Regions from separate parts of the Homo sapiens genome. Here region 1 is linked to region 2. Evidence: fine-mapped expression QTL. A gene starts in region 2. The other region holds a variant in brackets. All regions are shown on one strand. Distances are from middle to middle.

What was found. PIP is the estimated chance that this variant, and not a neighbour inherited with it, causes the effect.
Region 1: its variant is fine-mapped to the expression of FGL2 in blood mononuclear cells (TOPMed, PIP above 0.99). The same link has a PIP of 0.9 or more in macrophages.

The regions. Positions count from the first base shown.
Region 1 is chr7:77,224,490-77,240,578 of GRCh38, reverse strand. CCDC146 (coiled-coil domain containing 146) reads right to left here. Exons shown (of 19, transcript NM_020879.3): 3 at 3,550-3,632. The region is part of intron 1 of CCDC146-AS1 (CCDC146 antisense RNA 1); the gene reads left to right. Among named protein-coding and RNA genes, the nearest start is that of CCDC146-AS1, 16 kb to the left of the region's middle. The variant C/T (reference allele first, on the strand shown) is at 7,467.
Region 2 is chr7:77,190,129-77,206,217 of GRCh38, reverse strand. FGL2 (fibrinogen like 2) reads left to right here and starts at 6,399. Exons shown (of 2, transcript NM_006682.3): 1 at 6,399-7,037; 2 at 9,233-12,849. The coding sequence starts at 6,425. The coding sequence ends at 9,939. All of the region lies in intron 2 of CCDC146 (coiled-coil domain containing 146), which reads right to left. RefSeq lists an enhancer at 3,260-3,309 and a silencer at 6,699-6,808.

The sequences.
Region 1 (16,089 bases), 34 kb before region 2:
ACCATTTACATAGCATTTATATTGTATTAGGTATCACAAGTAATCTAGAAATGATTTAAAGTATACAGGAGGATGTGATTAAGTTACATGCAAATACTATACCATTTTATATCAGGGACTGGAGTATCCATGGATTTTGGTATCTGCAGGAGGTCCTGGAATCAATCCCCCAAGGATACCAAGAGATGACTGTACTATGCTAGGTGCAAGAGGTGAATAAGGCTTAGCTCCTAGCTTCAAGAATCTTACAATCTGGCAGATGCGGAGGAATACCAGATGACAAGTACTACCGCTGGTGTCCAGATCAAGACAGCAGGAGACAACAGAGAAAGGATCACTCAATGGGAATGTGACATTTGAACTTGACTTTGAAGAATGATTATGACTTACTAGAAGGGGATAAATGATACGGAAAGAGGAGGTTTTCCCTTGAACTCCCCAAACAACCCTAGCTCTCTTGAATTCTTGTAACATAATTGTAGGAAAATCTCTCCCCACTTAGTGAACTATGAAAAAACAGAAACTTTTCTAATGGCACTTTATTAGGAAACTAGGAAGAGAAATTCCCATACGCAATTATGAATATAAATAAATTTACAGATTTCTGATTCTAAATTGGACACTGGTTAGAGCTGGATGGACTTGAAGGTCACGGTAGAGGGAGATTCCTACAACCCCAGTTATATTCTATGACCTTGGCCCTATGTAGGGAAAAGGACTAAACATCTGTCAGAGGATGTAGAAAAAGGACATGGCGGAATCTCCAGTATCTTATAGAACTCCTCTATGCTGCAAGCTAGCATCAGCAAGCATCGGCTCCAACCTTACCAGTAGATATGATTCCTCTTTCCCAGAAACCCTTATATTAGCTACCTCTCCTATTTGAAGTAAGCCCTCACCACTTCCTGTTTTAGAGCCAGAGCTCTCTTTTGATGTATGCTCCCCACCAACTGTCCTCACCAAGATAAATCTTCAAGTTCCAGCTCATTTGCAGAGACGCCCAATGACTTGATCAAGCCAATCTCAACTGAAGTTACCTTGTGTCTGCCTCACCTTTGTGATATTCTCAATTCAGTACAGATACATCCATTTTCCCAGGTTTTATAATGTCATTTGCTCAATAGCATCTAGCAAAACATTTACTGGGACATAACACGTTCCAGGCATGATGTTAGGTACCAAATAGCAACAACAATAGCTACAGTGATACCTCAAATAATTTTCATTAATGAAAGCTGGAATTATTCTCCTATAATTCAATTTTCATGTATGCTAATAAACTTTGTAAATCTAAAGTTATCTGGTCTCCTTAATAGGTCAGGCTTCAGCTATTGAAATTGTAAGCTGTTGGACCAGGCTACAGTGCCTGTTTTTGCATAGAAAGGACAGGGTGGTAGGGTTCCAGCCAGAACACAAATCGCAACTTACCCACATGTATTTAAAACATGATACCAGTAGAAGAGACTTTAACAACTCTTATAACATGGTTTCTATGGAAGACTCATTCAGTTTCAGTTCAATATTTCCAGGCTATATCTGCCCAGCTGTAGTCCTAGCAGCACGAATGAAGAGTCTACTTCATGTTTTTCCCACCCATCAGGCATTGGGAGTAGGAGAGAATGGTGAGTATTTGCAATGGCATTAGAGGGAACTAAGTGGTCAAGATGTAAAATGTGGGTAGCAGAAGGGAAGTTAACTGTTTTGCAACACAACCTGGAAGAGGAAGAAATAGTGCCATAGCTGAGGTCCTGCATTGCTACTTGTCATTAGGGGCCAGGGAACTGAGTTGTGGGCCAGGGGAGGAGGAAGTTAAGTCAAAGCACCCTGCAAATCTCCACTGGGCTCTAGATAAGAGCTATCCAGGCTGGGCACGGTGGCTCACGCCTGTAATCCCAGCACTTTGGGAGGCCGAGGCGTGAGGATCACAAGGTCAGGAGATTGAGACCATCCTGGCTAACCCAGTGAAACCCCATCTCTACTAAAAATACAAAAAAATTAGCTGGGTGTGGTGGCGGGCTCCTGTAGTCCTAGCTACTCAAGAGTCTGAGGCAGGAGAATGGCGTGAACCTGGGAGGCGGAGCTTGCAGTGAGCCAAGACCAGGCCACTGCACTCCAGCCTGGGTGACAGAGGGAGACTCTGTCTAAAAAAAAAGAAGAGCTATCCAGAGGGCAGGAAACACTGATATTCCTTGTATCTGCAAAGAGGATTGGAGGGATGCCCAGAGAACTGCATGGCATTTCCTCTCAGTTAAGCAGTGTGAAGTATGTTGTAAAAGATTACTCCAGACTTTCCACTTAAAGTCTCAAAATTCCTGAGCCTTGAGAACTCTGAGAACACACTGGCAGGCGTGACCAGCTACGGGGGAATGGAACCTCCATTAGGTGTGGGGGTGAGGACTTGGCTTGGGCTTGAGGATGAGGAACCAAGGCTGGGGGCTTTGGAGGGGTGTGAGGAACCTGGGTGCACTTGAAGTTTGCATAGGAATGCAGCTCTGCTCTTTTCCAAGTTGTTCACTCTTCCCTCATGCTTTTACCCTCAAAGTAGCCAAATATCTCTGGGCAAGATAAGAAGGAGGGGAAGTGATTGGGAATTGCGGGGAGAGGATGGCTGGGGAGTGGCAGCATGGAGTTTCTATCTGTTGCTGTTGCTCCTTGGCTTTTGATGAAGATACAATGCAAGGCCCTGAGACAAGAGGTGGGGGAAGGAAAGAAAGAGGCTTGGGAGTGGTAAAGAATCACAGCACATTAGGGTTTTCCCTCTTTCTTCACTCCCCTGCCCTCTTAATTCCCAGTGGCTAATAGCCAGTGCTCAGGCAGGCTTGCTGGACTCTTCTATGATAGCCTGTTCTTCTGACCTGTTGGTGATTGGGACTTGCAAGGTGTAAGTAGCTTGTGATATGGGGAGGAGGTGAGAAGTACAGACAGGGTCTCAGCAGACTCAAGCTGGGGTTGTTGGAGAATCTACACCTCTGAGTGATGAACAGACACGGGAGAAGAGTCCTGCAGGTGTGTCCTATGCAGAGACTGTCAGTGTCCCACCAGAATCCTTTTGCCCACCTGCAGCTTTAGTGGACAGTTACCATATGTATCAGCAGCACCTGTGTCCCTCCGCCTGAGAGCTGTCTCTGGCCATCAAAGTTTGCTTGGTTTGTCAAAGCGCAAGCTGGAAGTGCCAAGAGCTAATCTCCCTGGAAGTAATTTGTAATAAATGAGTGGTGGAAACTGGTGGGCAAATATTCCAGTTTCCTCACTCTTCAGTGGGAGAGTGCTGAGGTGAGCCACTCAGAGGCTCCTCTGTGAGGCTGAGCCCCAGTAGCCCATCATATAAACTCGCAGATGTACACGGCCTGATCAAGGCTAGATTCCTTCCTTCCCAGTCGCACTTCCCCACTCTCTCACGATGCTTTCTCGTACCACTTCTCAAACTCCCTGAACGCAAATCCTTGCCTCAGGGTCTGCTTATGGGGGAATGCAAATGAAGACAGGTCTCATCACCAGTAAGAAATTTAAAGGTGATTAATCATGTCTCCATATTGGTAAATTGCATACCTCATCACGGCGTCATGCAGCAAGGTATACTTGGCTTTTAACGCTGCCATTCTGGTTCCAGGAAGTTTTCCCATAGCATGTAACTAGCAAAGAGAACATAAGGTCACTGTTAATCACCATTCTCTTTAGGCTTAAGCAGGGGATGGAATGGATATATGGTTATCTTATAAAATCCTCCATTAAACATTAGAGGATACACGAGGCAATGTAGTGTACTGGAAACATGCCAGGTGTTTGGAGAAAATAGTGCTAGTTCTATTCTGCCCCCAGTACATTCTGTGTCCTCAGGCAAGTCTTTTCAACTCCCTAGGCTGTTATTTCTTTGTCTGGAAATTGAGAGGATTGAGTTAAATTCTTCTAACTCTAAAAAAAATTTCAAGGTTTAACAAACAATCTGAATAGTGTAGATTATAGGTTGGCTATTTGTAAGTTGAGAAAATGAATGGTTATTGAACAGCTATTAGAGTATGTGTTGCCCATCAGTTATTTCATTCTTAAAAATGTTGTGAAATAAAGATTATCATCTCCATTTGAAACTAAAGTTTAGAAAAATGATTTGTTCAAGGTTATAGAGCTAGTTAAAGGCAGGGTGAGAATTTAAACCCAAGTGGTTCAGCTCCAAAAACCCACGATCACTCCCCTGTACCGTGATGCCTTTGCCTCTGCTGTCAAAGAAGCATGGAAAGTTTTCCAATGCATAAAGAGGTACTATTTATTCCCATTTTATTTCTAGTTAAAATGACTTTTGATCTGTTTTCTGAGTTAGGTGATAATTAGTTAACAGACATCATAAAACATCGTCAAACACTAAAGTTTTACCATCCTAAAATCATAATGCAATGAGCATTTGTATTAGGTTTGACTTCAACTGCTAGTGACAGTATCAAAATAGAACTAAAGAGAATATTTGTGTTTTTCAGCCCTGTTGTTCTTACATTTATTTATTTATTTATTTATTTATGACGGAGTCTCACTCTGTCGTCCAGGCTGGAATGCAGTGGTGCAATCTCGGCTCACTGCAACCTCTGCCTCCCGGGTTTAAGTGATTCTCGTACCTCAGCCTCCCAAGTAGCTGGGACCACAGGGGCACACCACCACGCCCAGCTAATTTTTTGTATTTTTAGTAGGGATGGGGGTTCACCATGTTAGCCAGGCTGGTCTTGAACTCCTGACCTCAGGTGATCCACCCACCTTGGCCTCGCAAAGTGCTGAAATTACAGGCGTGAAAGCCTGGCCCTTACCTCTAAAGTGCTTATTGAATTCATCCACTTTCCTCTTCCTTCCCTGATCCCACTGGCCCAAGTCTCATCATCTCTCAATTGGACCACTACTAAACCTCCTAACTGCCCTTCTGCCAGGGAGATCTTTTTAAAAATCAGACAAGGTTATGTTATGCTGGGTGATCAAAACACTTCAAGTGGAATAAAATTCAAGACCCTTGGTATTCAAGACCTTGAGGTCCTGCCTGACCCCAACACCCCCACAGCCTCCTTTCACAACACACTCTTTAAGCTCCCAGTGCTTCATTGCTTCTGCCACACTGGCTGCCTTTGATTTCCACAGATGTATGAGTCTCTCTTTTTCTCCAGGGCCTCTGATTAGTCATTCCTTACTCCCCCTACTTCACTCCAAGTCTTTCTTCATGTCTCAGCTTAAATATGAATTCATAAGAAGGCCTTTTCTGACTTCCAAATCTAAAGAAGATAACCACGTGTACTTGCTCCTACCTCTAAAGAACGCTGAGCTTCATAACATTACAATCTGCAAGAATAAATTTACTTACATTATTAAAAACATTTTTATACTTCCCCAGCTAGTATATAAGACCTATGAGGAAAGGGCCCAGATTACCTTGTCCTTCACTGTATCCTCAGCCAAAGTATTACTAGAATCCCAGGCACAGTATAATCCCAGGCACAGTATACCCAGGTGCTAGGTAAATTGCTTATATTTGTTAGCAAATGAATGAATGCAGCTATCAAAATGCAAAAGTCTGAGTCTATACAGTGGGGTTTCGTGGTCTTTCTACCCGCATCAGGGTAGAAAAATGTTAAATGCATTATGAAACCATTTCTTCTTTGTGAAAGTGTTGGGGATCTTTCATGAGGGCCATACTATCTGGTGCCAGGCCTGGCTTCCAATCCCTACAACCCTCATTATTTTTTTAATCTATGGGTGAAATATGGTGAACAAGATCTTTAAGACCTTTGAGGATACTCTACCTGTATCAAATATCTTAAAATCTATTCATATGCCACCTTAAATATAATTTATTTATAACTTTTTTTTTCCCCAGAGATGGATTGTCGCTCTGTTGCCCAGGCTGGAGTACAGTGGCGCTATCTTGGCTCACTGCAACCTCTACCTCCCGGGTTCTAGCAATTCTCCTGCCTCAGCCTCCCAATTAGGTGGGACTACAGGCGCATGCCACCACACCTGGCTAATTTTTTGTATTTTAGTAGAGATGGGGTTTCACCATGTTGCCCAGGCTGGTCTTGAACTCCTGAGCTCAGGCAACCCACCCGCCTTGGCCTCCCAAAGTGTTAGGATTACAGGCGTGAGCCACTGCGCCCGGTCTATTTGTAACTTTTTAACTGTTGAGTTGCTGTTGGTAAGTCGACTTAATGTTACATTTTACAGATATTTATTTTGGTTCTGCAGTATTTTTTAGCCAATATATAATTTATTTCATGTTTCAAACATTTTCATTGGTTTCCCAAAGTATACAGACCATAGTTACTATGGCTTTAAAATCTAATAAGTTAAAAAAAAAAAAAGCCTTTACAAATGGACACACTTAAAGGAGAAAAGTTGCTGGGAAAAGATTATGAAAAGGTAAATATGTGAGTGTGTGTTTGTATGTATATGGGTACAATGAAGACCAACTAGGGGCTAGCCCAGTAACTAGCTAACCAGCCATTTTCTGAAGGTAAACTACTGGGTAAGGTAATTGTGGACTCAAATATTCAAAAAAACAGATAGTATTTAGTTTTGTTCTTAAGCTAAAAAGACCATTACTTCCTACTTAATGCTCCCTGCATAAAAAAAACAGAAATGAATATAACATAGGCTCTGCCTTAAGGTAGGCCAAAGTTTGAAGAGATAGATACAAAAAAAAAAAATGATAGAATACTGAAACTACATTCTGCAGTTTTATTTTAAGTAAATGATTGTATTTGGCATTTTGCAATGTTTTAATATTGCAAGTTAAAGCAGGAGTTCCCAGCCCCTGGGCTTTAGGAACTGGGCTGCACAGCAGGAGATGAGCAGCGGGCAAGTGAGCATTACCACCTGAGCTCTGCCTCCTGACAGATCAGCAGTGGCATTAGATTCTCATAGGAGCATAAACCCCATTGTGAAATGCGCATGTGAGGGATCTAGGTTGTGCACTCCTTAGGAGAATGTAATGCCTGATGATCTACGGTGGAACAGTTTCATCCCAAAAGCATTCCTTCTGCCCCACGGAAAAATTGTCTTCCACGAAACTGGTCCCTGGTGTCAAAAAGGTTGGGGGGCTGCTGATTTAAAGCAAATAAGTAAAATTATAAATTACAGACCAATCCAGGGGGTGGGTGGGACTTCCAAAATGGTGGGATGAAGAGTTTGATGAATTCTCTCCTTCAAAGAAACATTGATTTGGCCGGGCACTGTGGCTCACGTCTGTAATCCCAGCACTTTAGGAGGCTGAGGCGGGCAGATCACCTGAGGTCGGGAGTTTGAGACCAGCCTGGCCAACATGATGAAACCCCATCTCTACTAAAAATACAAAAAAAATTAGCTGGGCATGGTGGCGCATGCCTGTAGTCCCAGCTACTTGGGAGGCTGAGGCAGGAGAATCGCTTGAACCCCAGAGGCAGAGGTTGCAGTGAGCTGAGATCACGCCACTGCACTCCAGCCTGGGTGACAGAGTGAGATTC[C/T]GTCTAAAAAAAAAAAAACAAACAAAAGAAACAAAAGAAGCATTGATTTAACTGGTCAAAATAATCTGAGACAACCATTTAAAGTCTCTGGAAATTGACCTAAGGTTATATAATAAATTGAGAAACACTTATTCAATAAAATCTACTGAAGCTCAGCAAGAAACTGTGGCATTTGAACCATGGGCTGCATCCATCCCTCTAGCTTCAGGTTTCAGAACTATTCTGGGCAGGCTTGCAGCCAGTGAGGTGCCCATGTCCCCCACTTTCCTATTGCTGAGGATCAAGATCTATCCCAGGTGAAGATCTAAGAAACGGTAGCACTCAGCACTCATCCTCCCCTTCTTCCCCATGGGCAGCTGTAGCTGTTCGGTAGTGCCAGTACTCACTCCCTAATGTCCTGCTCTACAGGGAGACCCTGGGCAGGGCAAACAAAACAGATCAGAGTTCCCCATATCCCCAGCTCCTGCTCAGTAACACAGAGGCTCTAACCAGGTTGGGGGCTGAGCAAGCTGTGAGGACTTGCAGCTCTGCAGCCCTGCCTTTGACTTTATTTGGAACAGAGTGTAGGATATTCATGTCCCAGAGCAATGTAAAAAATAACAGACATAGAAAAACAGATATCATAAGGGCTAACAGAGTAGGCTAATAGTTTTGTGATGCTAATAGATGCAGACCAGCAGAAGTTTAACAGAGAAATTGGGACGAGGGACAGTAAAAAAATTCACACTTGATACTGGTGGTCCAGGAGACTGTGGAAAAGCCCACGGCTGTGACCACCCAAGATCAACCAGACAGGGTACTTCCAAGTCAGTCCCTGAGTTAAAAGTGGCAGATATATAAACTCCTCGAACTCCAAAAGTTGTTCCCAAGCCACACACAGACCCAGTGGAAAAGGATGAAAACCTTACTGGCTCAGTGAGCTTAAGCGTGACCTCTGACCAATCAGTGACTGACCGAGGGCAACACCCAGGAATTCAAGTTTAAAAACAAAAAAACAAGGAACAACTATCTAAGCAGAGACATTAGAGGCTGCCTACTGCGGGGGAAAAATATACTTCACAGTATTAGTCCAGCCAAGTCACTAAACAAATAAATAGATGAACAACAATAACAAGAACAAAACAGCATCAATAAGCCTGGGAAGGATCAGAATCCAGAGTTGTTACAATATATGACCTAAAATGTCCAATTTACAATGAAAAATTATGAGACTTGCAAGGAAACAAGAAAATATGACCCCCATCCCATATAGTGAGATCCCCAGTTCCTTTCTGCAGAGGAAAAAAAAAAAAAACAACAACAACAGGCAGAAACTTTCTTAGGGAGGATGCAGACGTTAGATTTAACAAAGACTTCAAAGAAAATATTATAAATATGTTTGAAGAATGAAAGAAACCATGTTTTAAAAATTAAAGGAGAGTATGATGACAATGCATCAAATAGAGATTGTCAGTAAGAAGAAATTTTTAAGGAGCTACACTGAAATTCCTAAGTAGAAAATCATAATTGAAAAATTCACTGGAGGAGTTCAACAGTAGATTTGAGCAAGCAGAAGAATCAATCGGTAAACTTGTAGATCAGTAGAGAAGGCAGTAGTGCCCACTTATTCATGGGGGATGTGCTCCAAGACCCCAGGAGGATCCCTGAATGGATAGTACCAAACCCATTTATGCTAGGCACAAATTTATTTTCCCTTCTTCACAATTCACAGATAAGATTTGTTCTTACTGTAGATCTTAGCAATCTCAGCAAACTTTTTTTTCTTTCCTTATTAAATTGAGAACTTTCACTTTTTCACTTAAAGAAAGCACTTTATGGCTTCTCTTTGGCGTATCCAAATTGCCACTATCACTGATCTTGTGCTTTGGGGCCATTATTAAGTAAAATAAGGGTAACTTGAAGACAAGCACAGCAATCCTGCAACAGTGGACCTGGTAACTAAGACAGCCACTAAGTGATTAATGGGTGGGTAGCATACACAGTGTGTACATGCTGGACAAAGGGATGATTCACATTTCAGGTGGGATGGTGTGGGAACATGAGAGATTTTATCACACTACTCAGAATAGCATGCAATTTAAACTTATGGATTGTTTACTTCTGGAATTTTCCACTTAATATTTTTGGACCATAGTTGACCACGGATACCTGAAATCGCAGAACATAAAATTGCAGATGGTGGGGGGGACTACTGTATATAATTTGAATAACAGAGAGAAAAAGCATGAAGACACACAAACAGATTGTCACAGAAATGGAGGACATTAATCCCACTAAATTACAAGTAATGGGAGAACTAGAGAAAAAGAGAACAGAAAACAAACTTAAAGAAATAAAAAACTTTGCAAATGGGATGAAAACATATTCAGGAGCTCAAAGAATCCCAAGTAGAATCAACAAAAAGATATTCACATTCAGATACATCACAAACTGCTGAAAGCCAAAGATAAAGATAAATCTCCAAAGCAGCAAAAAGCAAAACAAAAAACCCCAGCTTATTATGTACAAGGGAATCACATAAGAGTAACTTCTCATCTAAAATAATGGAAGGGAGAAGGCAGTGGCTGACACATTTAAAGTGAAGAAAAAACAGACACACACACACACACACACACACATACCTGTCAACCAAGAATCCTATATCCATCAAAAATATCTTTCAAATAGGAAGAGGAAATAAAGACATTCCAATATAAACCAAAATAGAGAAAATCATTGCTGGCACACCTGCCTTATAAGAAATAATAAAGTAAGCTCTTCATGCTGGAAAGAAGGAACAATAACTCAAATCCACGTGAAAAAGCAAAGAGTGTACTCAATTAAATTGAAGATATATGCTCATATAAAAGCTTGGACACAAATATGGCAGCGTCATTCATAATAGTAAAAAAAAAGAGAAACAACCTACAAGTCCATCAATTGACAAATGGACAAACAAAAAATATATATCCATAGGATGGAATATTCAGCCATAAAAAGGAATGGAGTCTTGATACCTGCTGTAACATGGATGAACTTTGAAATCTATACACTAAGTGAAAGAGGCAAGACACCAAAGGCCACATATTATGTTATTCATTTATATGAAATATCCAGAGTGGGCAGATCTTTGGAGACAGAAAGTTGATTTAGTGGTTTCCTACACATAAGACAACTAGTGTGAGGGGAATGACTTTTAATGGGCACAAGGTTTCTTTGGTGTCACGGAAATATTCTACAATTATGCCATGATTATACAACTCTGTATATATACTAAAAGCCATTAAAAACACTTTAAAAGAGTGATTTTTATGGTAAACTCAAGAAAACTTTAATGTCAATTACATTAGAAATCAATTTTCTGTGTAAAAGAGATACAATTGTAAAATCAAATTAGTGAAAACACTACAAAGTTAAAATTGAATTGCAAATACAAGTATGAACTAACTCATGCTTAAAATTTTTTTCCCTAGCTTTGTCCATTAAATAGCCTAGACCGCACACCTACAACTATCTGATCTTTGACAAACCTGACAAAAACAAGCAATGGGGAAAAGACTCCCTATTCAGTAAATGGTGCTGGAGTAACCGGATAGCCATATGCAGAAGATTGAAACTGGACCCTTTCCTTACACCGTACATAAAAATTAACTCAAGATGGATTAAAGACTTAAATGTAAAACCTAAAATTATAATAACCCTGGAAGACAGCCTAGGCAATACCATTCAGGACATAGACACAGGCAAAGATTTACTGATGAGGACACCAAAAGCAACTGCAACAAAAACAAAAATTGGCAAACGGGATCTAATTAAACTAAAGAGTTTCTGCACAGCAAAAGAAACTATCAACAGATTAAATGACCTACAGGATGGGAAAAATTTTTGCAAACTATGCATCCGACAAAGGTCTAATATCCAGCATCTATAAGGAATGTAAATTTACAAGAAAAAGCCAAATAACCCTACTAAAAAGTGAGCAAAGGAAATGAACACTTTTCAAAAGAAGACATACATGTGGCCAATGCCAACAATTTTATGGAAAAAAGCTCAACATCACTGACCATTAGAGAAATGCAAATCAAAACCACAATGAGACACCATCTCACACCAGTCAGAATGGCTACTGTTAGTTGGGGGAGGGAGAGCATTAGGAAAAATAGCTAATGCATGCTGGGCTTAATACCTAGGTGATGGGCTGATTGACAGGTGCAGCAAACCACCATGGCACACATTTACCTATGTAATAAACCTGCACATCCTGCATATGTACCCCAGAACTAAAGATAACAATTTTTAAAAAGTCAAAAAATAACAGATGTTGCTGAGGTTGTGGAGAAAAAGGAATGCTTATACACTGTTGGTGGGAGTGTAAGTATTTCAGCCATTGTAGAAGACAGTGGTGATTCCTCAAAGATCTAAAGACAGAAATACCATTTGATCCAGCAATCCCATTAATGGGTATATACCCAAAGGAATATAAATTATTCTATTATAAAGACACATCCATGTGTATGTTCATTGCAGCACTATTCACAATAGCAAAGACATGGAATCAACCTAAATGTCCATCAGTGATAGACTGGATGAAGAAAATGGGGTACACATACACCATGGAACACTATGCAGCCATAAAAAAGAATGAGATCATGTCCTTTGCAGGGTCATGGATGGAGCTGGAGGCCATTATCCTTAGCAAACTAACACAGGGGCAGAGAACCAAATACCACATGTTCTCACTTATAAGTGGGAGCTAAATGATGAAAACACATGGACACATAGAGGGAAACAACACACACTGGGGCCTGTCAGAGGGTGGAAGGGAGGAGAAGGGAGAGGATCAGGAAAAACTACTAATAGGTACTAGGCTTAATACCTGGGTGATGAAATAATCTGTACAACAAACCTCCATGATACAAGTTTACCTACGTAACAAACCTGCACTTGTATCACTAAACTTAAAGGTTAAAAAATATATAATGGTCTAGAAATAATGCCACATTAACAACAATGAGCACTCCTAATACATTTTGGTCTTTAATCTTATTTCCCACTAAAAGGAAGCAGCAAGTGTTAGAAATGGTTGATTTCAGGTCTGGTACAGGGAAGACACAAAGTGAAGCTGAGACATCTTGTTAAGCCAGAAAGCAAGAACTGTCCGTAGAAGATGATCTTATTTTACATATGAGTATGTGAATATATAGAGATCCAGAAGGATAAGAACTAAGATGTTAAAATGATGTGCTCTGGGTAGTAAGAATGTGCTGCTTTTATGTTTTTATTTTTGCTTGCCTGTGTTTTCTAATTTTTCCAATATGTATTACTTTTAATAACAAAAGGCTATTAAAAATGTGCTTGCAGACTATCACTGTAAACAAGAGGGAATTAGAGCAGAATTTAGAGAGAATTAGAATTTAGAGAGTACTGTGATCAGGTCCTAGTGGCAGATATAGGCAGATTCTAGCTCTGACTTACTGAATGCTCAACTGTATTTCCCCTAAGTTGAGTCCCATCTTTAACAGCAATGGTGGCCAGGCGCCGTGGCTCACGCCTGTAATGCCAGCACTTTGGGAGGCTGAGGCAGGCGGATCACGAGGTCAGGAGATCGAGACCATGCTGGCTAACACGGTGAAACCCCGTCTCTATTAAAAATACAAAAAATTAGCCGGGCGTGGTGGCAGGCACCTGTAGTCCCAGCTACTCGGGAGGCTGAGGCAGGAGAATGGCATGAACCCAGGAAGTGGAGCTTGCAGTGAGCCGAGATTGCACCACTGCACTCCAGCCTAGGCGACAGAGCAAGACTCCGTCTCAGAAAACAAACAAAAAAACAGCAATGGTTTGAAGCCTAATTGTAGGTGGGCCAAGGATACATGTTGGCTAGTTTTATGGCCACAGAAAAGCAGGAAAACTACAGAGGTTTCCTTTCCTGTTTTCTGTCTCTATCATTCTGCTGGCCTTTGGTGCCTTACAAACCTGCAAAGAAAGCTGACAGGGTAAAACACCTGAATATGTTCTTGCAGTTTCTACATAAATTGGAAAAGGTAAAGTCATAGATGTTCAGAATGTTAGTTGATAAACTTTGTTATTTCAGTCTCCTCTAAAAAAACAAATCTCTCTTAAAAAAACTAAACTGTGGAGAATAGATTTTAGCTGCCTTAAACATAAAAAATCATAATCTAGACGTCAACATTCATCAAAAAGTGACTTTTCTGTGAAATTATAAACTGTCTCTTTAAGCAGGTCGATCCCTGGTTAGAAACTTCACACTAAGTTCTAGCAGATAAAAATGCTTCACTCATAAACAATATCATACATGGAAAATGGTTGCATTTTCACATTGCATGATACAAGTGGGTGCAGAACTCAAGTTTGTCATGTTTCAAAAATGCAGAATCTAAGAAATATAGCACAAAGTTCAATCTTAAATTGTCAAAGAGCATACACAATGAAAGGTTAGATATAATGTCATAAGTTCATAAATATGATTTCACAATAGATTCTGTGTTATTGAATTGCCCTGCTGGCAATTATGTGACTGGAAGGAAACATTTACTCTAGAGATAAAGTTTAAAAAGAGTTCATGATTCATGGATGACATGTAACAATATGGAAAAAATTTCAAAAATGGAAATTCTAGGACATTTCAAGGAAGTAATAGCTCAGTAAGAGCTTTCACCAAGTGAGTTTATCTGGAAGGGGGTCAGCATGAGGAAAGAATTAGGTGTTTGCGTGGGTGTGTGCAGGGAACCTGGATTTGTCCAAGGTGGTCACAGCTATTTGCCTACCCTGTTCTTGTGACTTCTTTGACATTACCTAGTGGGTTGGCTTCATTCTGGGGAATGGCTGGCATGCTTTGGAAGGTAATATAAATGTGAAAGCATAAGTGGTTACCACTCTCATCTCCCTTTCGCCTGCTCCCCTCTCACTGCTGGAAATAAACAATACGGCCATTTCAAGTAGTTTCCAAATGCATTGAGCTCTCAAAACTGCTTCCTTTGACTTTTCCCATAGGTTATCTCAAGCTTTAGCTTTCTCACACACCTAACTCATTCACAGAAAATATTAGGCCACATATTCCTTTCCTCCTCCACCTGTGCTTTCAAATATATGCTCTCCTACCTTTTCCTAGGCATTGAGTCATCAGTAATAGCTTCTCTCCTTTTAATCTCTACTCCTTCCTTTTTTTTTTTGAGATGAAGTTTCGCTCTTGTTGCCTAGGCTGGAGTGCAATGGCGCAATCTCAGCTCACTGCAACCTCCGCCTCCAGGGTTCAAGCGATTCTCCTGCCTCAGCCTCCTGAGTAGCTGGGATTACAGGTGCCCGCCACCATGCCAAGCTAATTTTTGTATATTTAGTAGAGACGGGGTTTCACCATGCTGACCAGGCTGGTCTTGAACTTCTGACATCAGGTGATCCACCCACCTCGGCCTCCCAAAGTGTTGGGATTACAGGTGTGAGCCACCACGCACGGCCCTACTTCTTCTTTTTTACTGGCTAGCATAGTCTAGTAGTCAAGTATATCACAAGTCAAGTGGATTTTGTTTTGAATTATAGCTCTGCTAGTTTTTGTTTTTTTTTTTAAGGCAAAGTCTTGCTCTGTTGCCCAGGCTGGGGTACAGTGGTGTAATCATAACTCACTGCAGCCTCGAACTCCTGTGGCTCAAGCGATACTCCTGCCTCAGCCTCCCAAGTAGTTAGGACTACAGGTGTGCATCACCATGCCCCGCTAGGTTTTCTTAAAATGTTTTGTAGAGATGGAATCTCACTACGTTGCCCAGGCTGGTCTCGAACTTCTGGTCTCAGGCAATCCTTCTGCTTTGGTCTCCCCAAAAGTGATGGGATTACAGGTGTGAGCCACCATGCCTGGCCAGCTTTGCTATTTTTTAAAACTATGTAACTTGAAGTGATATTTAACTAGTCCTTGCCTCAGTCTCTTCAGTTGTAAGAGAGAAAAAATGAATCAATGTACATATGTAGTATAATATCTTAGTGTACAAATAAAGTCTTAATCAGTGTTAGCTATTTTATTATAATCATTATCATTATCTTCAACCTATAAATTTGCTCATCTCTCTCATTTCAAAAACAAACAAGACAAAATCCATCTTGGGCATAGTGCTCCCATTTAATTACCTTCTTTCTCTCCTTGACTTTTCATTTCAATTCTTCTCAAAAGAGTAGTCTCTGCTCTGTCCCTTCATTCCCTCCCCTTTCATCACTCAGCAACCTGTAGTAACCAGACTGCCAGTACACTATAAATTAGTAAACTGACTGAGGACTTCCTTACTTGTCTTCCTTGAGTCTGTCCTGCATGCTGCCAGCAGAATGCTCCATCGAAACACAATTCTCACCTTGCTTTAGACCCTTCAAAGGACCTCATCACCTTCAGAATTAAGTCTAGGCTCCTCAACATGGTGTACAAGGGTCTTCATTATCTGGTAGCTGCCGCCTTCTCCAAACCTGTCTCCTCCCTCTATCTCCCATGATGCTTTTGGTTCTGTAATAGCAACTACAATTCCTGTGGTAGGTAGAATAATCTCCCGCATCCCCCAGGATGTGCATGTCCTAATCCCTGGAACCTGTGGATGGCTTTCTTCACATGACAAAAGAGACTTTGCAAATGTGATTAAGAATGGCCCCTTGA
Region 2 (16,089 bases):
AATTTAAAGCCCTGGATTTTGTAACAATATATGGGCAATCCTCATTATTCATAGATCTTGTCTTTGTGATTTGCCTACTCTCTAAAATTTATTTGTAACCCCAAAATTAATACTTGTGGGACCTGTGGATCATCTATGGACATGCGTAGCGTGGTAAATATGTTGATTTGCCAAATACATATATACCCAGCTGAAGTCAAAGAAGGCAACTTTCTGCCTTCTTTTAGATCTCATACTGTAAACTGGTATCCACTTTGCAGTCTATTTAATTAGTGCCATGTTTTTCACATTCTTGTGCTTTTTCTTGGTGATTTCGCTGTTTAAAATGGCCTCTGACTCATCTGGAGAATGTGACTGAAAGAAAAGACATTTTAAGAAATAATAAAATAAAATGGCCCCTGAGCATAGTGTTGAAGTGCTACCTAGAGGGTTTTTGTTGTTGTTGTGTTTGTCTGTTTTTGGGACAGGGTCTGACTGTATTGCCCAGGCTGGAGTGCAGTGGCATGATCTTAGCTCACGCAACCTCTGCCTCCTGGGCTCAAGTGATCTTCCTGCTTCAGCCTGCCGAGTAGCTGGGACCACAGGTGTGCACCATCATGCTTGGCTAATTTTTTGTATTTTTGGTAGAGATGGGGTTTCACCATGTTGCTCAGACAGGTCTCAAACTCCTGAGCTCAAGTGATTCACCCACCTCAGCCTTCCAAAATGTTGGGATTACAGGCCTGAGCCAGCATGCCCAAGTTCTTAAGCTCCAGATGGCTGTGATGTGTCTTACGGAGAAAACACATATATTAGATAAACTTCTTTCAGGTTTGAATTATAGTTCTGCTGGCCATGAGTTCTGCATTAATGAATAAATAATATATATTAAATAGGGTGTCTTTAAACAGAAACACACTTAAAATAAGGTTATATATTGATTGGTTAACAAAAATGATGTGACCAGAGGCTCTTAGAAACCTAATCTTAGGAGCAATGGTTCAGTATTTGCTGATTCAGTATTCGCAATGACTTTATAGGAAACAACTACCATGAATATGAGAAATGAAGGCAAGATATAGAAAGCCACAATTTGATTCTCCTAATTTCTTTACTTTGATTTTATTATTTGTTTTGTTTTGGGATTATAAGAAGAAGCTTAAGATCAATCTCAAATACAAGAAGTAAAAATTCCTGGGCTCAAGCGATCTTTCTCCTTAGCCTCCTGAGCAGCTGGGACTGTAGGCGCATGCCAGCATGCCCATCTAATTTTTAAATTTTTTGTAGAGACAGGGTCTCACTATGTTGCCCAAGCTGGTCTTGAATTTCTGGCCTCAAGTGGTCCTCCCACTTCAGTTTCCCAAAGTGCTAGGATTACAGGTGTGAGCTACCGCACCTGGCTGGCTATATGAAACTTCCTAAGTCTCTGGAAATTTAGGGAAATGACAGTAAATTAGATGTCATATCCATTAACCTTTTGGATCCTTCATGATCCCTGGCTTGGTGTGGAGTACATAAGAATTGATTTTGTTGATAGGTATTGACTGATGAACTTTCCGAGACTCTTGTGGAATATTCCAGTTCCATAAAGTTTCAATCTGAGAAGCCCTGGATACTCCCACTTAAGACCTGTGCCATTAGCATATTGGATAACTATGTTCTGTAGTTTCATTAATAGTGAATATCTGTATATTTCTGCCCTATACTTCAGTTGATCCAGAAATCTTAAGGATTCCCATAATAGATCTTTCATTGTAGGTCCATATTGGAAGACTTCTAGTCTGAATCTCTCATCTATGCCAGAATGAAGTACCTGCAAGTCATACCACAGAACCTACCAACTATTATTCTAGCTTTAACCAAAAGTCAGGCAATTCTTGTTCTGTGGGTTGTGGAAATCATTTTTTTTAAGTTCTTTTCATGAAATTTATAATGAACAAGGACTAAGACCTCTAAGGAATATTAAAATAAATATTTACTGTCGATATTTCAAATTAAGTAGTTTAAAAAGTGAATGTTTTAATTTTCTTATCAGAAAAGCACATATTCTTTAAAGAACAATTAAAGGTTCCTGAGTTTAATAAATCAGAAACTACAAATGTTAATAAGCTTAATATCAGTGAAAGGCTCTCAATACTATAAATACGACTATCATTAAATTTACTTTCTTCTTTTAGTACAAATAGAAACACAAAGGGTTTCCTTGAAAAAAAAAACTGTATTAGGGGAAACAAAAATTTACTTTAGGAATCTGATCCAGTTATAGAAAATGCAGATCTTCTCTTAAATATACTTTGTGTAAGCAAAAAGGAAGTCTGAACATGTGAATATAGACTAATGAAAGTAAAATTTCATATGCGGCTTATAGAAATAAATTTTGCTACTTTAAAATCCCACCATGTATTGGTGTTAAATAATTTGCTTAAATCTAAAAACAAGTCTGTAAGTGAGTGTAATGTGTCAGTGCTGGGTCAAGGACAGATTCAGGGTAGTAAGGAAGATTCTGACACCGCCATGAGGAATAAGCAGCCGATACTAGGAGTCAGGGTAGACTCAGCATGAGAGAATCCAGAAGGGCTTTCAGCAAGAGAGAAGAGGCAGAAGGTCAAGTCATGAGGTGGGAACTCCTAGTAGTGAAGGACAAGTCAGCTCTTCAGGTTTCGATTTTCTGATGGCCTAGTCCTGCTTGAAACCCTCCCTTTTCCTGGTATTCATGACGCTCCTGTACTCTCCTGGTTCTCATCCTATTTCTTTGACCATCTTTTTGATTCCCGTGATTTCAAATTAACATCCACATCTATTCTGTGTCAATATTCATACCTAGATGTGCCACCACTCTTTGCTTGATATTTGCATTTGGTGGCTTGTCAATGCTTAAAACCCAGTGTACTGAAAACAGAAATACTACTACACTCTCCCCAACCTACTGCTACCTCTGTCATTAGCATGCTATCATTTAACTGCAATCAGAGGCAAATTTCAGAGTTGTCCCTCTCTTTCCAGTTCTCACCACTTATCAGATCCCATGGCTTCTATCATGCCTTGGTAATAATGCCTCCATCTCCTTTCCTACCCCTCCTGCCTCCACACTGGTTCACCTCTTATCTAGTGCCTGCTACCACACTACTAGCTCTCACCTAAAATGCCATTTCCCACTGATTTGCAGCAGAAGATTCATTCCTAAAATAGTCCTGGGGGGGGGGGGGGCAAGTATTTTATTTTCCTTGCTCAAAAACCTTTAGTGGCTCTCCATTGATCTAAGCATTGCTTTAAGCACAGGCTCTCCACATAGTTCTCACATACCCTCCCCATGTTATCTTTCCTCCTACGTGGCAATGTGGCAAAGAGAAAAGATATGAACTTTGAATCAGATACAGGTTCAAATTCCAGCTGTCTCTTAAAAACTCTAAAACAGAAACTGAAAACTGTAAAATGACCAGACAAGTCATTTATTGCTTTGAGCCCTTTCTTTGCTCATCTGCAAGTGCAGGGAGGAACCGTAGAGGCGGTACAACACTCTCTGCCCTCCATGAGTTATACACTCATTAGGGGAGTTGAGCCTCTTTTCATGCAGTAGTCACTTAGCATCTGCCTTCCAGTCAGTGGCCAAATGACTTTCTAAACCGAGAACCTAGCAGGTCACCTGTCAGTGTCAATGAAACTGGTCAACAGAGGAGTTCTCTACCCTTATGTCAGGGAATTTTTTATGCATTCTGAAGGGACAGAAGCCAGTTCTCAAAGCACATCCAAGCTTTTTAGGGGAAACTGTGCCATTGGCCCTTGGTTAACTGGGGTGTGACCAGCCAAAAATTAGCAGCAGTGCTTGACACGCACATTTCTGATTCAAACAGATGAACCAAAAGCCCACTGCAAGAGTCCAAAAGCTGTACTTCTGTTAGGTTTAGAAACTTTAAAAAGTACTTAAGATTTCATTTCAAAGTCCAACGTGAAGAAAATACCAGGTCTTTAATGCCCCTTTCTAAGAAGGAAAAAGGGATTTTTGTCTGATTTGTTCACCAGTGTGGCCCAAGTGCCTAGAATAGCGGTTTTGCATGCAGAGGGTGCAGAGTCAATTTATGATGAATAAATATATAGTATATCAATATATGTATGAGGAATAAATGAATGAAAGTGCCTGTGGCACGCATCTTATATATGCTCTAGCATAGTGCTGAGTATACAGAAGATCCTTAATAAATACTTTACTAACTAAATGCAGGGATTTATACTCTAGTCAGTCAAGGACATTTCACAATATCCTTAAGGACTAGGAACTAAATATCATTCCTATATATTTCTACTTTACAAAATGGTTTTTTTTTTTATCTATGTTGTCATCATGTCTCCTTTTTAAAATTATCTATTGTTTCATTTATTTCTTACCTCCCAACAGGGAAGTGTCACAGCTTGAAAATAGGTGAGAAGAAATGAGGTTAGGAGTTAGGGGATTAAATAGATATTTTTAGCTAAAAAGTTTTTGTCTAAAATTGGATATATTGAATGGAATGAAGAGAAAAACAATTTTTGAAAGAGCTATATGAAGATGGAAGAAAAAAAGTCATAAGGTGTGTAGAACATGTTTGACAAATTTATTTGGGAAGAATGTTACATTTATACACTGCATTTTTTTTTTTCTTAAGTGCTCTAAGTTTTTTTTTTCTTTTTTTGTGAGGGGTGGGGCTGGGGGATGGAGTTTCACTCTTATTGCCCAGGCTGGAGTGCAGTGGTACGATCTAGGCTCACTGCAACCTCCACCTCCTGGGTTCAAGTGATTCTCCTGCCTCAGCCTCCCGAGTAGCTGGGATTACAGGCACACGCCACCATACCTGGCTAATTTTTTTTTTTTTTTTTGTATTTTTAGTAGAGATGGGGTTTCACCATGTTGGCCAGGTTGGTCTCAAACTCCTGATCTCAGGTGATCCACATGCCTCGGCCTCCCAATGTGTTGGGATTACAGGCGTGAGCCACCACGCCCAGCCAAGTGCTCCAAGTTTGCATGACTATCATTCCTGTATGAGGGAAGAAATAGCTAAATTCCTCCGCTACAGCTACAGGAACAAAGGCTCATTAAAGCTGATGATCTGTTTACATGATCAGAGGTAGATCTAGGGTTGGAAGCCAGGTCTCCTGAGTATGCGAGAATAAATACAGTCATGGAAGAGTAAAGAGTCTGCCAACATTTTGAGAATGTGAATAGGATTTGGCTAAAATTAAGGGGATATACAGAAAAGTCATAGGAAATCAGGTTAAAGACATAAATATGAGATAGGCTACAGAGTGTTTTAAGTAATACAATAAAACATTTAGATTTTTGCCCATGTCAGTCATTTTGAAATTATTTTTAAAGCAAAAAAACCCTTTTTAAACAAGAAATCTTATGAGATGTCAATATGCAAAACAAATTAAAAGGAGGTGGTTTCTCTAACTGAAGCTGTTCCTCTTTCCTGCCTTCAGCCTCTGAAGAGAAAGTTAGAAAACTATTATCATTAATGCTACATGTTTTGAACAAGCTGATATACCAAGTGGCCCAGAGAGCAGGTAGAAGAACCAGCGTGGAGACAGAAAGCAAGAGGCCCGCCTGCCAGGGCTACCTGCAGAAAGAAAGGGCAAAGATGCTGTAGGCAAGAGAAGTTCAGGACAGACACTGGCATAGCTCAAAGATTCACATTTGAGCAGCTGTGGAAGATGACAGTACAATTACCAAAATGTCGAAGGGCAAAGGAGGCAGCTACTGGTTTTGATGAAAGACAATTATGTCCTTTTAAATGGGTCTTAGACATTTAGACATTAATATACACTATGCTACGGACAAAGGAATAGAAAGTAGCACTTTTTTCTCCACTAGTTTTCTTCTCTTTTTCAAGTAGATGAAGCAAAAGTCAACTGCAATAGTCAGAAAGCTGTACTTTGTTACACTTAGAAACTTCTAAAAGTGCTTAAGATTTCACCTGAAAGTCCAACATGAAGAAAATACAGGCTCCCCAATGCCCCATTCTAAGAAGGAAAAAGGACCATTTTCATTTTAGTAACGTTTCTGTTCTATAGACAGTTTGGATAACTAGCTCTTACTTTTTATCTTTAAAAACTGTTTTTCCAGTGAAGTTACGTATAATTATTTACTTCAAGCGTAAGTATACCAAATTACTTTAGAAATGCAAGACTTTTCTTATACTTCATAAAATACATTATGAAAGTGAATCTTGTTGGCTGTGTACATTTGACTATAATAATTTCAATGCATATTATTTCTATTGAGAGTAAGTTACAGTTTTTGGCAAACTGCGTTTGATGAGGGCTATCTCCTCTTCCTGTGCGTTTCTAAAACTTGTGATGCAAACGCTCCCACCCTTTCCTGGGAACACAGAAAGCCTGACTCAGGCAGCTGCCGCTATTAAAGCAGCTCCAGCCCTGCGCACTCCCTGCTGGGGTGAGCAGCACTGTAAAGATGAAGCTGGCTAACTGGTACTGGCTGAGCTCAGCTGTTCTTGCCACTTACGGTTTTTTGGTTGTGGCAAACAATGAAACAGAGGAAATTAAAGATGAAAGAGCAAAGGATGTCTGCCCAGTGAGACTAGAAAGCAGAGGGAAATGCGAAGAGGCAGGGGAGTGCCCCTACCAGGTAAGCCTGCCCCCCTTGACTATTCAGCTCCCGAAGCAATTCAGCAGGATCGAGGAGGTGTTCAAAGAAGTCCAAAACCTCAAGGAAATCGTAAATAGTCTAAAGAAATCTTGCCAAGACTGCAAGCTGCAGGCTGATGACAACGGAGACCCAGGCAGAAACGGACTGTTGTTACCCAGTACAGGAGCCCCGGGAGAGGTTGGTGATAACAGAGTTAGAGAATTAGAGAGTGAGGTTAACAAGCTGTCCTCTGAGCTAAAGAATGCCAAAGAGGAGATCAATGTACTTCATGGTCGCCTGGAGAAGCTGAATCTTGTAAATATGAACAACATAGAAAATTATGTTGACAGCAAAGTGGCAAATCTAACATTTGTTGTCAATAGTTTGGATGGCAAATGTTCAAAGTGTCCCAGCCAAGAACAAATACAGTCACGTCCAGGTATGTATAATAATGTTTTCTTATCATATGTTCATAAATGTTATACAGCTAGAGAGTATCTATAAACATTAACCTGAGTCAGTAAGTTAAATAGATGACAGATTAAGTCTTTTATTTATCAAGGTGCACAGGAAAAAATAAATATCTTCTCAAATATGACCACATAAATATGACCTAATTACAAAAATCATAGTTAGTTCTGTATCCACTGGAAGTCACTTTCAATTTTAAGATCTTATTTGTTAATGCCAGACCTACTTGCAAGCAGAAGTAGAGAGAATTTCTTGATGTTTTAGTGCATTTAACTTGTCTCTTCAATGAGGTGTTTGAAAACAATAAAGATAAGGCGATGTTCACAATTGTGCCTTGTTTGTTGGAAATCAGTTTTTCTTGTGATTGACTGACTGCCGCTTCTCATGGCTAAAGAGGTCTTTGAAAGATTTTAGCAAGTAATCTAGTTCTTAATCCCAAATATCTGGAGAAAATGGGAGAGTTTACAGATGGAATAAAAGCAGTTTCATATGTGTGCACAAATTTTTGCTTTGAGACCTAGTGGCACAAAAAATATTTTAAGGGGAGAGTTTTAGCATGCCACTAAGGGAAGGTATTCATATTTCTTTCTCTTTTACCTGAAGTTAGAATTCAAGCAGATAGAAGTAGAACCCATCCTCACCATCCAAATTACTTGAATTAACTTTAATAAATACATGTGAAATTCCACAGACTTAATCGCCTACTCCACCCACGAACTAACAGTGGTATTGACTCTCCAAACCTTGGCTTTTCACCTGAGTCACTGGGACCACTGTTGCTGACTGTCTCATACTTTGGAAAGCCATCTCCGCATTTGGACCTCTACTTACCATGAACGTGAGGTTGAAAGGACAGGGCGGAGATCACTTTCATTTAGAGACAGTATCTCAGGCATGCTCCATCCCCAGGGCATCTGCCAGTGAAGGAGGGAAGGGTCATATTTTCAAGGACCTCTATTGGTAATACTCCTGGCAGCCTGCATCTGAATGTACCTGGCACACTGCGAATCCAAGGTTCACCGCTTAGGTGACATCAGTGGGTATACATTAGATTAGATGCTGCATGGCAACTTGTCATGATATGAAGACTATTGTCTATTTTTCTCCTAAACATTTTGGGTGAAATAACTGAATATTCTGAGCTCTAAATATACAGGAATAGATTTTTATGCCTTAGGGTATCTCATATTAAACTTACCTTATTTGTCACACATTTTAATAAAAACTATCTGGGAGTAAATATCTGTCTGATTCATACAGAACTTTGTTAACTGATTATTATGCTTATCCTCAATATAGTCACCTGTTGTTTCTTTCTAGAAACCCAACATGTGAAATAGTGGCTAAATACTTTCCTAGATAATAAATACAGAATAAGAATATTGGTGTGTCATTGAAAAAGATACTTCTTTTTCACTTGAGCTTCTTTATATAGTTGTCAAGTGAAATGAATATGAATTTATGATCAATCCTATGCATTAGGATTTTAACACATCATTTGGAATATATGCTATAAAACCTTCTGACAGTAGAGGCTATCAGCCCCTTTAGGTGAAAGAAAATAGAAGCCTGTGCTTCCTCTGTATGCAAGGAATACAGTTCTAGGAGAGTTAGAATCATCTGATTTTTAGGACCAAGGGATGCAATGATTACGAGAACAAAGCTTTGCTGCCAGCCAGATCTGAGTTAGTGTCCTGGCTCTGCCACTTAAAGCTCAGGTGAAGGTGGGCAAGCCACTGATCTTTATGCCTAAATATCCTCACATGCAGACTGGCAGTAACGCCTACATCATAAGGTCAATGTTCAGATTCAGTGTGAAAATGTTACCCAGTCTGGCAGCATGCCTAGAACGTATAGGTAGGCCTCACTACATAATACTAAATTATTAAAACTGTACTTTTATTATTTTCTTATTGTCGTTTGCTGTTGATGCTGTCATTATTACTACCAACCAAGAGTATATTAGAGGTCCTTTCTGCTTTATAACATTAGGTTCTTCTTGTGAGGCCTTAAGCATTTGCTAAACAGGTTCAAGTAAGTTTAGTAAAGTTTCATTACTGCCATTGATTCAATTATCAAACTGCTTTTGTACATATAAAGAATTCTTCAGATGCATGGTTTCTATTAACAAGATCCAATGCCTTCCTTTTATTTCCCCTTCAGTTCAACATCTAATATATAAAGATTGCTCTGACTACTACGCAATAGGCAAAAGAAGCAGTGAGACCTACAGAGTTACACCTGATCCCAAAAATAGTAGCTTTGAAGTTTACTGTGACATGGAGACCATGGGGGGAGGCTGGACAGTGCTGCAGGCACGTCTCGATGGGAGCACCAACTTCACCAGAACATGGCAAGACTACAAAGCAGGCTTTGGAAACCTCAGAAGGGAATTTTGGCTGGGGAACGATAAAATTCATCTTCTGACCAAGAGTAAGGAAATGATTCTGAGAATAGATCTTGAAGACTTTAATGGTGTCGAACTATATGCCTTGTATGATCAGTTTTATGTGGCTAATGAGTTTCTCAAATATCGTTTACACGTTGGTAACTATAATGGCACAGCTGGAGATGCATTACGTTTCAACAAACATTACAACCACGATCTGAAGTTTTTCACCACTCCAGATAAAGACAATGATCGATATCCTTCTGGGAACTGTGGGCTGTACTACAGTTCAGGCTGGTGGTTTGATGCATGTCTTTCTGCAAACTTAAATGGCAAATATTATCACCAAAAATACAGAGGTGTCCGTAATGGGATTTTCTGGGGTACCTGGCCTGGTGTAAGTGAGGCACACCCTGGTGGCTACAAGTCCTCCTTCAAAGAGGCTAAGATGATGATCAGACCCAAGCACTTTAAGCCATAAATCACTCTGTTCATTCCTCCAGGTATTCGTTATCTAATAGGGCAATTAATTCCTTCAGCACTTTAGAATATGCCTTGTTTCATATTTTTCATAGCTAAAAAATGATGTCTGACGGCTAGGTTCTTATGCTACACAGCATTTGAAATAAAGCTGAAAAACAATGCATTTTAAAGGAGTCCTTTGTTGTTATGCTGTTATCCAATGAACACTTGCAAGCAATTAGCAATATTGAGAATTATACATTAGATTTACAATTCTTTTAATTTCTATTGAAACTTTTTCTATTGCTTGTATTACTTGCTGTATTTAAAAAATAATTGTTGGCTGGGTGTGGTAGCTCACGCCTGTAATCCCAGCACTTTGGAATGTCAAGGCAGGCAGATCACTTGAGGTCAGGAGTTTGAGACCAGCCTGGCCAAACATGTGAAACGCTGTCTCTATTAAAAATACAAAAATTAGCCGGGCATGGTGGTACATGCCTGTAATCCTAGCTACTTGGGAGGCTGAGGCAGGAGAATCGCTTGAACCTGAGAGGAAGAGGTTGCAGTGAGCCAAGACTGAGCCACTGCACTCCAGCATGGGTGACAGAGAAAACTCTGTCTCAAACAAAAAAATAATAAAATTTATTCAGTAGGCTGGATTCTACACAAAGTAATCTGTATTTGGGCCATGATTTAAGCACATCTGAAGGTATATCACTCTTTTCAGGCTATAATTATTTGGGTAATCTTCATTCTGAGACAAACTTAATCTATATCATTTACTTTGCAACAGAACAACCCTACAGCATTTTGGTTCCCAGACTAAGGGAACTAATATCTATATAATTAAACTTGTTCATTTATCATTCATGAAATATAAAATACTTGTCATTTAAACCGTTTAAAAATGTGGTAGCATAATGTCACCCCAAAAAGCATTCAGAAAGCAATGTAACTGTGAAGACCAGGGTTTAAAGGTAATTCATTTATAGTTTATAACTCCTTAGATGTTTGATGTTGAAAACTGCTTTAACATGAAAATTATCTTCCTCTGCTCTGTGTGAACAATAGCTTTTAATTTAAGATTGCTCACTACTGTACTAGACTACTGGTAGGTTTTTTTGGGGGGGGTGGGTAGGGATATGTGGGTAATGAAGCATTTACTTACAGGCTATCATACTCTGAGGCCAATTTTATCTCCAAAGCAATAATATCATTAAGTGATTCACTTCATAGAAGGCTAAGTTTCTCTAGGACAGATAGAAAACATGAATTTTGAAATATATAGAACAGTAGTTAAAATACTATATATTTCAACCCTGGCTGGTAGATTGCTTATTTTACTATCAGAAACTAAAAGATAGATTTTTACCCAAACAGAAGTATCTGTAATTTTTATAATTCATCAATTCTGGAATGCTATATATAATATTTAAAAGACTTTTTAAATGTGTTTAATTTCATCATCGTAAAAAGGGATCATCTCAGAGAGAACAGCAGTATTCTGCGTATTTTTAAAAATGCTCTAGAGTAACATTTGAAGTAATTCACTGTAGTGTATGCCAGTCCTAGAAATAATTTTTTTAATTTCTGGTGTCTGTTTCTAATACACTAACCAAGTTTTCAAAATATATTTACAAAGATGCATCTTTACCCATTATTTTAAAATGATTAAGGAGGATAGTTGCTTCAGGTAACAAGCTAATTTTTCAAATATTAGGCCCTTACAGAACTATTTAGTCAAAAAGTAAGATATTCCTTTAAAATATATAACCCAAAGCTTTCAGTTAAACATGATATATCACAAATACTATTAAAATGTTAAAGAGAAATGCAAATAGCATTAAATGATGACCAAAATGTAAAATATTGTAGATTTCAAAAGCTGTGTCTCTATTAGGTGGGATACCAAATGTAAATGATGTAACTGACGTTGTTTTTTACTTTTTACTTTTTAAAAAAGACTAAAAACGTTTTGATATTATACAATGTATTTGTTTCAGATAAGGTCATTGTCATTTAGTATATATAATTAATATATGTACAAGTTTAAGTAAATTCCTGTGAGTAAAAATGGACTTATCACAAAACATAGTTCTAAAGAAAGGTATATGCTCATATACACGGTGTCCATTAATTTAATGGGAACTAGGTATAACTTCAGGAGAATTTGGCAAATAATTCATTAATCCATGTAAATATTCAAAAGCTTGTTCTATCCACATTATTTCAAGGGATCACTTTATTTTTCATTATACTTTCACAGCACTTTTCTAGTAAATTCTGTAACACAGAAATTCCATTTTGGAATCATTTCATGTTACCAATAATTCTAGACTTTTATAACATTTAACATGTTGATGGAAATAGATTACATCTGCTAGAACCTTTTGCCTTAACTATTCACCAATATATGCTAATATTCATAAATATGGATTGACTGTTTACAAACATTAGAATCTTGTCTTGGTTCCATTTTGATGGCTAATATTTGTTATCTTAATTAAGACTATTTCTGAGGTCATGATTACTTGAAAATATTGACTAAAACTGGGTCCTTAGAAATTCCAGGTGGAGCTGATTTACCTATGACTGAGGGGAAAAAAAAATCAAATTTTACTGATAATAGTAATGCTCCAAATGAATTAATGACACATCTGTTCAATAAATAAAGAGCTTAAATATACAAAACATAAGAAATCTGGGCAACAAAACTTGTGGTCTTTACTTTTGAATAGCTACCCAAGAAAAGGTTTTAAAGGTAAAAGTTATGAGTAATGTCATCACAATAAGCTCTTGTTTAAAATTCTTTTCTTTTATGTATAATTAGGTTTATGTTTCATGTCTTTTTAAAACCTTATAAAAGATTTAATTATCACATCTATTCTTCAATGTGGAAATATTAAATATTGTTGGTTGTAAAATAATATTTATGTACTTACTTGTGTCTGAAAAGTTGTAAAATGCTTACCTCAGCTATACAATATCTGTGACTCTGAAGACTTTAATGAGTACTATTTCATTAACAAGAAGTCAGAGGCAAATAGAGGAACACCATTATCTTACTTCCCTCTAGAATACTGTTGAAACATTTGAAATACAAAAGTTTCAGTTTCATTTTGTGGCATTCAACTTCCTCTCCTCTTTTTCCGTTATTAGTGTTGCTGCTCTGGTTAGCCCTCTTCATCTCCTTAGGACAACACAAACGCATCTGAATAGTCTGTACCTCTGGTTTCAGTCTATTCCAGTCCAACTTTCATCCCTACCAGGGGGATTGTTCAAAAGTACAATTCTGATCATGTTATTGTCCTGCTTAAAAAACTTTCAACAACGCCTTCTTTTCTTTTTTTTTATTATTTTATTTTATTTTTTTTAGAGACGGAGTCTCACTCTGTCGCCCAGGCTGGAGTGCAATGGCGAGATCTCGGCTCACTGCAACCTCTGCCTCCTGGGTTCACGCCATTCTCCTCTCTCAGCCTCCTGAGTAGCTGGGACTACAGACGCCTGCCACCTCGCCCAGCTAATTTTTGTATTTTTAGTAGAGACGGGGTTTCACCATGTTAGCCAGGATGGTCTCGATCTCCTGACCTCGTGATCCACCCGCCTAGGCCTCGCAAAGTGCTGGGATTACAGGCATTAGCCACCGTGCCCGGCCAACAATGCCTTATTTTCTACAAGATAAAATCTGGCAAATAAGTCCCTTCATGAAATGATTTTTACCACTACTTATACTTCTGCCATACTAAACGCCTTGTTGTACACAAACAAACTACGCTTTCTAATGTTTTCATTGCCTTTAGTATACTGTTTCCTTGGTCTAGATAGAATGCCATCCTCTTTCCTCACTGGGTTTTGTCTTATCACCCATGATTAACAGCAGGAACTCAGGAGCTGGCCTTCCTGGTTTGAATTTCAGCTCCACTATTTGCAAGCTGTATGATCCTGGGCAAGTCACTTAATGTTCTTTGGTTCCTTCAATTATAAAATAGGAATAGTAATAGAATCTGCCTGATAGAGTTATTGAGAGGATTAAATCACATATATAAAGCACCTAGAACATATATATTTAAAAATCATCATTCCCAGCTGGGTGTTGGTGGCACATGCCTGTAATCCCAGCACTTTGGGAGGCCGAGGTGGGCGGATCACGTGAGACCAGCCTGGCCAACATGGTGAAACCCCATCTCTACTAAAAATACAAAAATTAGCCAGGTGTGGTGGCTCACACCTGTAGTCCCAGCTACTCAGGAAGCTGAGGCAGGAGAATTGCTTGAACCTGGCAGACAGAGGTTGCAGTGAGCAGAGATGGCGCCACTGCACTCCAGCCTGGGTGACAGAGAAAAAAAATCATCATCATCCTAAGTAGTTATTATTATTTTTTATTTTTTGAGATGGAGTCTTGCTCTGTCGCCCAGGCTGGAGTGCAGTAGCACCATCTCGGCTCACTGCACGCTCCGCCTCCTGGGTTCACACCATTCTCCTGCCTCAGCCTCCCAAGTAGCTAGGACTACAGGTGCCCGCCACCACACCCAGCTAATTTGTTTTGTATTTTTAGTAGAGACTGGGTTTCACCGTGTTAGCCAGGATGGTCTCGATCTCCTGACCTCGTGATCCGCCCACCTTGGCCTCCCAAAGTGCTGGGATTACAGGCGTGAGCCACTGCGCCAGGCCCTAAATAGTTATCTCTTATAGGCAGAGTTCTCTGATGACAGTAGGTGGGGTCCTGGCACCTCTCCTAGATCTTATGCCATCCTACATATTCCTTATTATATATTATTCAATATTGTCTAAGTTCTATCCTGAAATCAATCTGTGTGAATAGGAGTAAAGGAAATTTGAGACATGAGTATTGTTATTCAAAGTGATTAATAATATGTTGCCACAGAGAAAGAGTTGTACTCTAAAGAGGCCACAGTTATGATTGGGAAAGTAGTGGGTAGGGTCAAATCTGCGGATATGAGAGACTGTGAACATAGGTGAGAAGCAATTACAGCCAGGGAGAATATGGCAAGACAGGATCAAATACAGTAAGTCCTCACTTAACGCTGTTGATAGGTTCTCAGAAACAGCGACGTTAAAACAACATACCATGTAACAAAACCAATTTTACCATAAGCTAATTGACATAAACAAGAATGAAGTTCCTATGGCATACAATATGCTGTTTTTGCTTAAAGTTGCTGTTTCCAAGAACCTATCCATGATGTTAAGTGAGGACTTACTGTATACTATAGGACTGGGAATGTAACAGTGGCAAACTTTTAGAAGGGGTCCTAGGAACATGCCTGTGGGGACATGTCACACAGAGGCATATTGCTGTACCTGCCCAATAGTGATTGTTCCACCCTACTGAATTCCTGAAGAAAAAAGCAGGAATAATTTTGAAATTAATTTTAATATAAAATCCATGAATCCTTTAATTTTTTAAAAAGTTACAGATTAAAATAAAGACTCCTTCACAAATCACCTTCAATTTCAATCCTGTCCCTCTCCCCAGAGGTAACAAGCCGAGGTGGCCAATTCCCAACTTTAATTTCATTCTGTGCATTGCCAGATCACAATGTCTACTAAGTCATAAGCTTGCCAGGTCTCCTTTGTTGATTGACTGGAAAGAGGTGGAAATGAGAGGAAATGGGTATACTTTGAAAACATGGAGTGTCCCGAATTCCCAAACATGAGTGGGCCCCCCCTTGCTTTTTGAAGTAGTCCCTCCCCTGACATTGATGAGGATGTCCTCTTGCTGGAGGGCACTGTTGCTTTCTTTCCTGGGGGAACACTCCAAATTCTTCCTTAGGCTCCTTCATCCCACTCATCAGCATCTCCAGATTCATCATCAGGGCATGCCCCAGTATCAGTTCTAAAGTCTAATGGAAAGAGAAGGCTTTGCACAACTTTGCTAACTTATATCAGCAGAAGGCTGGAGAAGACATGTAGAGAGAGACTGAGGTTGCCTGATTAAGGAAGAAACAATTTTAGATGTGACTGAATTTACTGGTATAGGTATATTTACCAGAAATTATAGATTCAACAGGCTATCTTGAGAAGACATGTTTGAGTCTAATAGTTTGCTTGCTTAGTTAATACAAACTTACATTCAATAGCAGCTCATGGTAACTAAAGTTGAGAAGCCAGAAATGTCTTCGAACTCAGACTTATGGAGATAGAAATG